2 separate regions of the Homo sapiens genome follow, and region 1 is linked to region 2. The links come from fine-mapping of genetic effects on gene expression. A gene starts in region 2. The other region holds a variant in brackets. All regions are shown on one strand. Distances are from middle to middle.

Region 1 (5,387 bases), 51 kb after region 2:
CAGCTCACTGCAATCTCTGCCTCCCAGGTTCAAGTGATTCTCCTGCCTCAGCCTCCTGAGTAGCTGAGATTACAGGCATGTGCCATCACGCCCAGCTAATTTTGTATTTTTAGTAGAGATGGGGTTATCACCATGTTAGCCAGGCTGGTCTCGAACTCCTGGCCTCATGCAATCCACCTCCCAAAGTGCTGGGATTGCAGGCGTGAGCCACCAAGCCTAGCCTGAAGAATTCTTTGCAAAGAAAAATATCAACTCAAATTTAAATAATCTTTTCCTTTCTTTTTCTTTTTTTTGAGACAGAGTCTTGTTCTGTTGCCCAGACTGAAGTGCAGTGGCACCATCAATTAGGTATCACTTTCAGCCTTGATCTCTCAGACTCAAGTGATCCTCTTAGCCTCTCAAGTACCTGAGACTATCGGCTTGCATGCCATCAGGCCCAACTAATTTCGTCATTTTTTGTAGAGATGGGATCTCCCTGTGTTGCCCAGACTGATCTCCAACTCCTGGGCTTGTGCAACCCTCCCACCTCGGCCTCCCAAAATGCTGGGTCACAGGCATAAGCCACAATGCCTGGCCATAAATAATCTTTTTTATTTGTTAATTTAGATTTCTGTATATTAGGTTTTATTTAGGGGAATTGCCTGTTTACACTCATGTATTTACACATCAAAACATGAGTTATGGTGGATGTATTCACAGCACATATGTAATAAGGCATGTGTAAAAATGATATTGATAATTTAGGGAATAAAAATGGTAGATTTTATAGACCATCTTTGTTTTTGATATACTTTTCTCTGTCTCAAAAAACAAAAACAAAAACAAACAAACAAACAAAATATATATATATAGCCTACATTGTTGTTAACTATAATCACCCTACTCTGCTATGAACAGTAGACTTTATCGCTTCTATCTAACTGTATGTTTGTACTCATTAACCAACCTCTCTTCCTCCACCTACACCCTTCCCACCCCCTGCCATCTTCTGATATCTATCATTCTATGAGTACTCTCTTCCTCCATGAGATCAACTTTTTTTTTTAGCTCTCACGTATGAGTGAGAACATGCAATATTTGTTTTTCTGGGTTTTTTTTTTTTTCTGTGTTTGGCTTATTTCGCTTACCATAATGACTTCCAGTTCCATCCATGTTGCTACAAATGACACGATTTTACTCTTTTTTAATGGCTGAGTAGTATTCCATTGTGTATATGCACCACATTTTATTTGTTCATTGATGGACACTTAGGTGATTCCATGTCTTGACTATTGTGAATAGTGCTGTAATAAACATGGGACTGCAGATATCCCTTTGATATACTGATTTCCTTTCCTTTGGAAAATACCCAGTAGTAGGATTGTTGGTTTATATGGTCATTCTACTTTTAGTTTTTTTTTTGGAAAGCTTCATACCATTTTCCACAGTAGATAAACTAATTTACATTCTTACCAACAGTGTATAAGCGTTCTCTTTTCTCTGTATCCTCATCAGCATCTGTTATTTTTTGTCTTTCTAATAATAACCATTCTAACTGTGGTTGCTTTTGACATATTTCTCTACCTTTTTGTTAATCTACATCATTTATAACATTTCATATGGCCTTTTGGGTCTCTCTTGGGTAGTTTTCGTATTTCTTCTCCCCTCCCCATTTATGATGCAGTCATATTACATGAGGATGCAGTTTTGCAGCAGGGCCTAGCAATGAGATACGTTGTTACACATCCTGGCGAATCTTTCTGTGGACTCTAGGATCCTCTTCATTTGCAAGAGGTCAGCCATCTATTTCTTCCAATTCCTCCAGCTTCACATATCTCCACAGAATGCAACACTGCAAATCTGCAGTTCTCTTCATGATCCTCTTTATTAGATTTTAAAAGAGTATCTCCAAAAGATGAACATAGTGCCTAAGGCTTTCCAAATGGAGTAAGAATAATGCACAAGAACCTAGAATAAAGTTATTAAATGTCTGATACAGTTGTAATACAGACTTGATTTTTGAAAAATGTGGCCAATGAAGAGAAGAGCAAATGTGCTATACGATGGTGAGCAAAAGGTGTTGACAGGCCTGGCATGGTGACTCACCCCTGTAATCCCAGCACTTTGGGAGGCTGAGGTGGGTGGATCATTTGAGGTCAGGAGTTTGAGACTAGCCTGGCCAACATGGTGAAACCCTGTTTGTATTAAAAATACAAAAATTAGCCAGGTGCGATGACACATGCCTGTAATCCCAGCTACCTGGGAGGCTGAGGCTTGAGACTTGCTTGAACCGGGGAGGCGGAGGTTGCAGCGAGCCGAGATTGTGCCACTGCACTCCAGCCTGGGCAACAGAGCAAAAAAAAAAAAAAAAAAAAAAAAAAGTGTTGACTGAACCCTGGCTGAAACAGTTTTCAGGTGCTTTCAACAAATTTACACTTCCCTGCCCTGAGCCTCCCTATTTCAGAACAAATGATTACCCAACTGCAAACTTTGAATTAGGAAGTTGTTTTTAATATGCCCTGTTTTTCTCAATATTTCTTGCCATTTCACAATCAGTTATTGTGGCATTC[C/A]AATTCTTCCACAAACATATGATGTGAAACATCCTGACTTCGATGTCATCAGGGAATGTGGAGCATTGGAAAGAGACAGATTAATTATGCAGAAGAAAGTATCATTTGACAAAATATTATTTTTATTTATCTTTGGAAAGGAAATCTAGAAAAAGAAAATACTTTTTAAAGAACACTGATAAAAATTGTTTATAAAATTTGTTTCCTTTAGGAAACAAATCGTTCCCTTAAAACTACATTTCATATCTGCCCCAAACGAGTCACATGTCTTCAGCTAATATTGCTTGTTTACGTTTGAACTTTATTCAATTCTATCACCTAGTAATTTAGTATTCTTAGGTAATTTCTCTTTGAGCTCAGGTTAAAAGTTGTTATTTTTAGTTTTCAGAGTTGCAGAATTTTTTTTTCAAGTAGAGAAAAGTTCATGATGAGATTCTGAAGCCACCTAATCGTATATTACTTTGAAAAACTGGATATATGCCGGGCGCGGTAGCTCACACCTGTAATCCCAGCACTTTCAGAGGCCGAGGTGGGTGGGTCACCTGAGGTCAGGAGTTCGAGACCAGCCTGGTCAACATGGTGAAACCCCATCTCTACCAAAAATACAAAACTTAGCCGGGTGTTGTGGCACATGCCTGTAGTCCCAGCTACTCAGGAGGCTGAAGCAGGAGAATCACTTGAACCTGGGAGGCGGAGGTTGCAGTGAGCCCAGATCACATCACTGCTCTTCCGCCTGGGTGACAGAGTGAGACTCCATCTAAAAGAAAAAGCAAAACAAAACAAAACTGGATACAGGGCAGTGCTTAGGTACAAATCAGAAAGTTAGAGGTTGCTATTCATATCATTAAGAAATAATGTGTCTTACGAAAGAATGTAGCAGTTTACTGAAATAGAAGTCATACCTAGAAATGTAATAATTTATCTTTAATTGTCAGAAATTTAACTGATATTATGAAGTTCTAATTATAAGAACACTTATTTGAGGTTAAAAATTACCTTATTCTATCCCTGCTTTGCCGCTAATTTGATCTCTCTGGATTAGTGGGTTATTGTGGGTCCTATGGGTATTTTAAGGAGAGGTCTCAGAAAACTAAAAATTATATATACTGGATCATAATCATTCTTGTCACCCACTCTCATCTTTCTGTTTTTGTTTTGTGTTTTACTACCCTTCCCCTTTTACTAAGTAGTCTTAGTAGAAGAAAATTTGCATTAAGTTTGTCGTACTGTATTGATATGGCTCCAAATGTTTCTTAGCCCAGGGTCCTCCCCATTCACTGATAAAAGCTAACTAAGGTAAATCACAGGTGTTTATTGTGCAAGAATACTGTGAAACTATTCATGTAATAAAAAGTTTGTGTTAGAATTTCACTCTCTTTAAATCCTGGACATCTTCTGTGAGTGTATCTGAAAGCAGCCAGACATCTTCAGTATTTAAGAAACCCTTTACTATTCTGTGTGCTAGGCACTGTGTTAGCTTTGGAATTCAACTGTGAATACTCTAGCCAGACTTCTTGTCTAAATAGTCCAGAATAGGGGTTGCTAAACTTTCTTTCTTTTTTTTTGAGATGGAGTTCCACTCTTATTGCCCAGGCTGGAGTGCACTGGTGTGTCTCTGCTGACTGCAACCTCTGCCTCCCAGGTTCAAGCAGTTCTCCTGCCTCAGCCTCCCAAGTAGCTGGGATTACAGGCGCCCACCACTACACTCAGTTAATTTTTGTATTTTTAGTAGAGACAGGGTTGTGCTGTTTGCCAGGTTGATCTCAAACTCCTGACCTTTGGTGATCCACCCGCCTCGGCCTCCCAAAGTGTTGGGATTCAGGGTGTGCCACTGTGCCCGGCCTGCTAAACTTTCTTAAATGGCTAGATGATAAATATTTTAGGCTTGAGGGCCATCAGGTTTCTGTTACAACTAGTTGGCTGTGCTGCCACTGAAGATACAAGAATGGCGTGACTATGTTCCAATAACATTTTAATTTCAAAACAGGCCAGCTGGCTGCATTTGGTCTGCAAGTAAAGTCTGCCTGACCCCCTACCTAGTCCAGAGGACAACGGGAGAGAAAAGGGATTCAAAGATAAAAATAATTTAGCTGGAATATATTTCTTTAAATAAACTTATTATACTTAGTAAAAAGTCTTAAATTAACGTTTTTACTTGAATTAAATAGTGGTAAAACAGGCTGGGCACAGTGGCTCATGCCTGTAATCTTAGAACTTTGGGAGGTCGAGGCAGGCAGATTGCTTAAGCCCAGGAGTTCGAGACCAGCCTGGGCAACATAGTGAGTCCCTATCTCTAAAAAAAATACAAAATAATAATAATAATGGTAGAACAAAGTCAATTTTTTATTGAAACTTGGCATTTTATTGGCATATTACAAAGTAGCATTACTAGACTAGCCTGAACATTACAGTAATATTCTGTCCTTAATGCCTTTTGTGTCACTGTAATATGAGCTTTCTGTTTGTTTTGGAATATGTTTTCAGCCTGAATATTATTCTAAAAATACAATTTACTATCATTCATAATATATCAAATGACTCACGTAGCTGCAAGGCAGTGAATTAAACAGAATTAGATCATTTTAAAAATAATGATAAGAGCTGATGATGTAAAGTGAAGGTCTGTATTTAATTTGGGAGGGAAAAGACTTTTTTTGTATATTCAAAGAGATGGAGTTTGACATCCCTTCACAACCTGTTACAGGTTGAACTTGCCCCTGTTTTTTTAACTGATCAAAAAGTTCCTTCTCTTGTGTTTCTTTTTTTCTTCTCTTTTCTCTTCTTTTCTTTTCTTTTTTTTTTTTCTGAGACAGAGTCTTGCTCTGTCTCCCAGGCTGG
Region 2 (5,387 bases):
TTTTTTTGAGACTGAGTCTTGCTCTATTGCCCAGGCTGGAATGCAGTGGCATGATCTTGGCTCACAGCAACCTCTCTGCCTCCCAGGTTCAAGCGATTCTTGTGACTCAGCCTTGTGAGTAGCTGGGATTACAGGCACCCCGCAACCACGCCCGGCTAATTTTTAGTAGAGACGGGGTTTCACCATGTTGGCCAGGCTGGTCTCGAACTCCCGACCTCAAGTGATCTGTCTGCCTCAGCCTCCCAAAGTGCTGAGATTACAGGTGTGAGCCACCATGCCGGGCCATAGAGTAACATCTTTATTGAGATATAATTCACATAACATACAATTCACCTATTTAAAGGGTATAATTCAGTGGTTTTTAGTGTGTTCACAGGGTTGTGTAACCATTACCACAATCTAATTTGAGAACATTTTAATCAATTCAAAAAGAAATCCAACGCCCATGAACATTCACTCTGCATTCCACCCTGTCCCCAGATTGAAAACAACTATGTGTTTTCTGTCTCTATGGATTTTCCTGTTCTGCACATTTCAGATAAGTGGAATCATATAATATGTAGTCATTTGTGAGACGCTTCTTTCACTTTGCATAGTTTTCAAGGTTCATCCATGTGACTGCATGTAATCAGTACTTCATTTCTTTTTATTGCAGAATATAATAATATTCCATTGTATGGATGATACCATGTTTTATTTAGCCATTCCTCAGTTGATAAACATTTTGCTACCTGATTTAAAGCTTACTTTCTGTTTCTCACACTAGTATATGAGCTTAATGAGGGTAAGAACATTTTTGTTGTTTCCCACTCAGTCCCTAGCATTTTGCACATTGCCTGTCTCATGTCAGTGTCAGGTTCAAATCTATCTAGCTGTGCTTTCACTGACGGGGGCCAGGAGGTTTCACAAGGACTCAATGGCTGATTAAATGCTTACAGATACAGATTTCTCAGGGCAGAACTTCTGCAAGCATTTTGGCTGTGGTCAGTTACTTTCAGGTTTTCATTACTTTTTGGTTTTCACAGCATCCGCAAGTGCCCATAGCCATTATCTCAGCTGCCTCTCTCTTTACTCTCTTGCCAATGGTGCCAGGCCACAGCAGGTGTTATCTTATCACCTCAGTCCACCATACATATGCTTATCAATTTGAGGGGTCAGCAATTTCACTGGAGGCTGAAACCCTTGTCATAAATGGCTCCATTTTGAGACATTTCAGATTACAAACCACTGTTATATACCAGCCTAGCATGTAGAAATCACTCAGTACATTTATTGAACACATAATTTAACCATTCATTCACCTGACCAACAGTCATTAAGCACTGACACATTTGTTTTCAACACTCCCTCTCTTCCACGGCAGGCCACTTGGTATGGGAGATAAATATGACAAAGGATCTGCCCTTACGAATCTCATAATCCACTGAAGTGACAACTGTGCAAACAAATAATTAAAGTAAAATTAAGAAGCTGGGCACAGTCTCACATCTGTAATCCCAGCAATTTGGGAGGCGGAGGCGAGGGGATTGCTGAGGCCAGGAGTTCAAGACCAGCTTGGCCAATTTAGTGAGACCCCATCTCCATTAAAAAATGATAAAATAAAATAATTGATTTTGAGAAAGGATGTGGACAAAGTGCAGCACATAGACCAAGGGCCCAGTTCTGTTTGAGGGCATTGGAAGCAACTTCCACAGCAAAGACTTGGGTTGAAATTTACAAAAATAGGAGTTTGCCAGCTTGACAGAGAGGCAGCGGAGGTCAACCAGCAGCACACTTAAGCAGTCATGGAGGCTGACCTAGGCGCTGGACATGGAAAAGTAGCAATCCTGGAGCTTTGTATAGATGTGGGGAGGGAACTTACAGGGGACCAACTAGGCTACTGGGCAATTTCACATTATAAAGAATTTTATATGCTCAAATTAAAGGATTAAAAATTTTCCCCCATGTACATAATAAATTGGCAAAAATGGTTATATTTGAGGGTGACTAAGGAACTCTGGGAAAGAGATCGGCAAACCAGGCACATGTTCTTGACTACTGCAAAAGTACATTTAAAGTAGCCGCGGGGGATACATGTATACTTTTGGGCAGGATTGTGCCGTGGTCCTCTCAGCATGCAGCAAAGTTACTTTGGGGACAGTAGGGAGGTGGGCAGGAGCCAGTGATGACGGAATGGCAATCACATTTGACCTCTGATCTGTTTATTTCCTCCTCCTTGACGTCTCCATATAAATGTTACACGGGCATCCCCACACTCGGATACGCACCCACAGTGGCTGATTCGGGGGTAACCGTGTCATTTGCTTGCAACACTGGCACCTCTGCCCTGCACCCCGGGAGTGAGCAGTGAGTGAGGCTCGGGTCTGGGCGCTGGCTCCGAATCTTCGGGCTGGGAGAGACTCCACCATCTGGGGGCGGCCTGGGGGAGCAGCCTTAGTGTCTTCCTGCTGATGCAATCCGCTAGGTCGCGAGTCTCCGCCGCGAGAGGGCCGGTCTGCAATCCAGCCCGCCACGTGTACTCGCCGCCGCCTCGGGCACTGCCCCAGGTCTTGCTGCAGCCGGGACCGCGCTCTGCAGCCGCAGACCCGGTCCACACGGCCAGGGGCTACGACCCTTGGGATCTGCCCTCCGCTCAGCTCGAGCTTCCCTCGTGGCCGACGGAACAATGAAGGTAACTACTTATGGTTTTGTCCGTGTTTTACAAAAATGTGTGCGTGAATCGAACCGGCGATTTCTCCAAGAAACATAGTTGGCAGGGAGGGGAGGAAGGCGAGACAACCATGGCTTATATCCCCCGCAAACGTCTCAGTATCTTCTTTATCAATCGTAGTTTGCGGGGACCGTGCATTCTGTTCAGATTTCGGTTTAACCTCCACTCGCAGGACGTGCCTTCTCGGACTTTTTCACATTCGCTTTTGGGAACGGAGGTGAAAGTCTGCTACAGCTCCCTCCCCTGCTTGTGAAGTTTGGAAAGGAAGTGAGGGCTTCTCTCAGTTTCTCCTATGCACAGGAGGTGGGGAATTTTGGAGAGGAGGTCTGGGGATGTCCCGGGCTGTAAATGCGCTTTCCTGCAGCGTGTGTTCGTGATGCAGGAGGGAGCGGCTGGAAGAGTTGACCCGGGTGGAGAGGGGAGGGAGAACGATCTTTTCACTGTTAAAAGCAGAAGGCCCCTCTTATTTTGTTTCTTGTGGAAATTAAAGCTTCTAGGAGTTACAAATGATAGACGCCTAAGGGCATTCATTTGTTAAACCAGTGAGCACCCTAATGGCTCTGATCTTGCTAATCAAGGATAATTAGCCTAGCTGCCTATTATTTCTGACTATTTAGGTGTAGGGATGTACACCGTTGAGTGTTTTGTTTTCCTAGTTTCACACACTGGAAAACTGCAATCGCATATAAAACCCGAAGAGCAACTTTTTCCAAGGAAAGTGAAGGATGGGCAGATATTCTTGCCATCTAACATTTTGGAATTGAGATGACCATAATGCAATCTGAACTTCTGGTAGGAATAAAGCCTCGTTTCAGAGTTTCTAAGGAGGGAGATGAAGCGTGGTTCTCAACTGCTCTTATCTACAACCCATCCCAGACCATAGTTTCACTTAGAAGAAATAATATGTAAATAGCGCCTTTGTTGCCAAACAAAAACTTTCACTACAATTAAACAGTAACCGAGTGGAAACTATGCGTTTTTGTATTCAACAGAGATCACACAACTTTTCTTCTATAGTTAGAGGTTCTATTTCTGGCTTCCTCATGCTTGTTTCATTTCAGATGAAAAACACACTTTAGTTGATTATAGCTTTAGTAAGTAAAAGGAGAAAACTAAGAATGAACAGTCTTGCTTTTCCAGCTTTTTCCTGTCCATGTGCAGTTGTGGTTAATTACGCGTTTTTGTAGGTCCAAAAACCCCTGTCCCTTCCACAAGATACTTTTATAACATGGGGAACTAGGTAAGATATCTACAAGTAGTCTCTTTTCTGTTTCCTGATATTTCCTAAGATTAAGAAAGAAATGATTGTATTCTAGGTATGATCGAAGAAGTATGGAAGGTTCCATTAAGTTAGTTTTATCACAATATTTCAAACATCTTTCCACTTATCTCTTAAATATGTATTGCTATCACAAGCTTGATTTTTTAAAAAAATGTTATTTGCACATGGCATCTTGATTGCCTTTGTCCTCAGCAAATTCTCCGGGCTTAAGTCATGCATGAGCTTGTATTTTAAGACAGACACATGCAGAATGGGCAACTTGGATAAGAAACATAGGATATACACTGAGTAGCATGTGTACAAAAATGGTAAGTGAGTATTATGACTTAATAAATTTAGATGGGGATTTAAAAATGATACACATGTAAATGGGATTGGAGGCAAGGGAAGTCCGTGTGTGTGTGTGTGTGTGTGTGTGTGTGTGTGTGTGTGTGTGTGGAGGGAAGACGGGAGGCCTAGTGGGGAGAGAGGTTTTACATTCCAGACACAGGATGTGGCCCCTCAGGCTAGGCTCAGAGATGTAAAGCTAGTTAAGCTGGCCTAACAAAAGGGTGGTGGTTAGAAAAAGGAAAAAAAGAGGTGGGGGTTGGGGAGGAAAAGAATTTAATGCTGGCCAATATTTTCATCTGATAAGTTTCAGTAATGAGTAATTTCACTGGATTTCAGAACTACAGAGAGAAAAGGGGAAAAATATTTTTCCTTTTTTACGCAAGAATTTCTCTTGCTTTTCAGCTCATTAGAACCAGATCTAATTATTTGAAATGAGTTTAAAACCTTATTATGAAAGGAAGTTGAAAACATTCGATCACAATTGAGTTTTGTACTATGGACTAAAACCAAGATGTGCTTTCTGTCAGTAGCTGTGCAACTCCCTGAAAAAAGAAAAATAGCGCAGAGCGATCTGAGCTTTGTGAAGGCTACACAATTTATCAGGCCCAGAGAGATAGGAGTGTGAGACTTCAGTCACGTCCCCCCGTACGCATGCGCAGGAGTAATTATTTAAAGACATTTTGTTCCTGACTAACTGCCTCACTCATTATGTTCCTGGAATTTGTGATACAAAAAAACAATGTTTAGCCTATCAATAGTTTATATAGTTTATGTTATTTTAATATAAATTCTTCTCAACTTAGAAACTGCCTCTTTTTTCTTTTAAAAACCCACTTGTAACTGCTGTATATATTCAGGGCAACTTGATTTGGTGTTTCGTTGGTTGCAGTCCTCAAATTTGACCTCAATATACTCTCTACTTATATAAATTTTGTCTCAGTTTTGTCCGTAGGCTGACATTCCAATTGTTTTCCTAATTATATATTTTGTTCCTTATTTCTCATGTCTAGAAATAAAGCTAGGGAAGTAAACAGCTGGAAAACTGATAGTGGTGTTATTAACCTA

The links.
Region 1: its variant is fine-mapped to the expression of BCAT1 in blood mononuclear cells (TOPMed, PIP 0.95).

Annotation. Positions count from the first base shown.
Region 1 is chr12:24,895,494-24,900,880 of GRCh38, reverse strand. The region is part of intron 2 of BCAT1 (branched chain amino acid transaminase 1); the gene reads left to right. Among named protein-coding and RNA genes, the nearest start is that of BCAT1, 51 kb to the left of the region's middle. The variant C/A (reference allele first, on the strand shown) is at 2,550.
Region 2 is chr12:24,946,211-24,951,597 of GRCh38, reverse strand. It overlaps BCAT1 (branched chain amino acid transaminase 1), which reads left to right and starts at 2,497. Exons shown (of 11, transcript NM_005504.7): 1 at 2,497-2,671. The coding sequence starts at 2,666. It overlaps BCAT1-DT (BCAT1 divergent transcript), which reads right to left and starts at 2,435. Exons shown (of 3, transcript NR_199054.1): 1 at 2,268-2,435. RefSeq lists enhancers at 2,044-2,133, 2,254-2,603.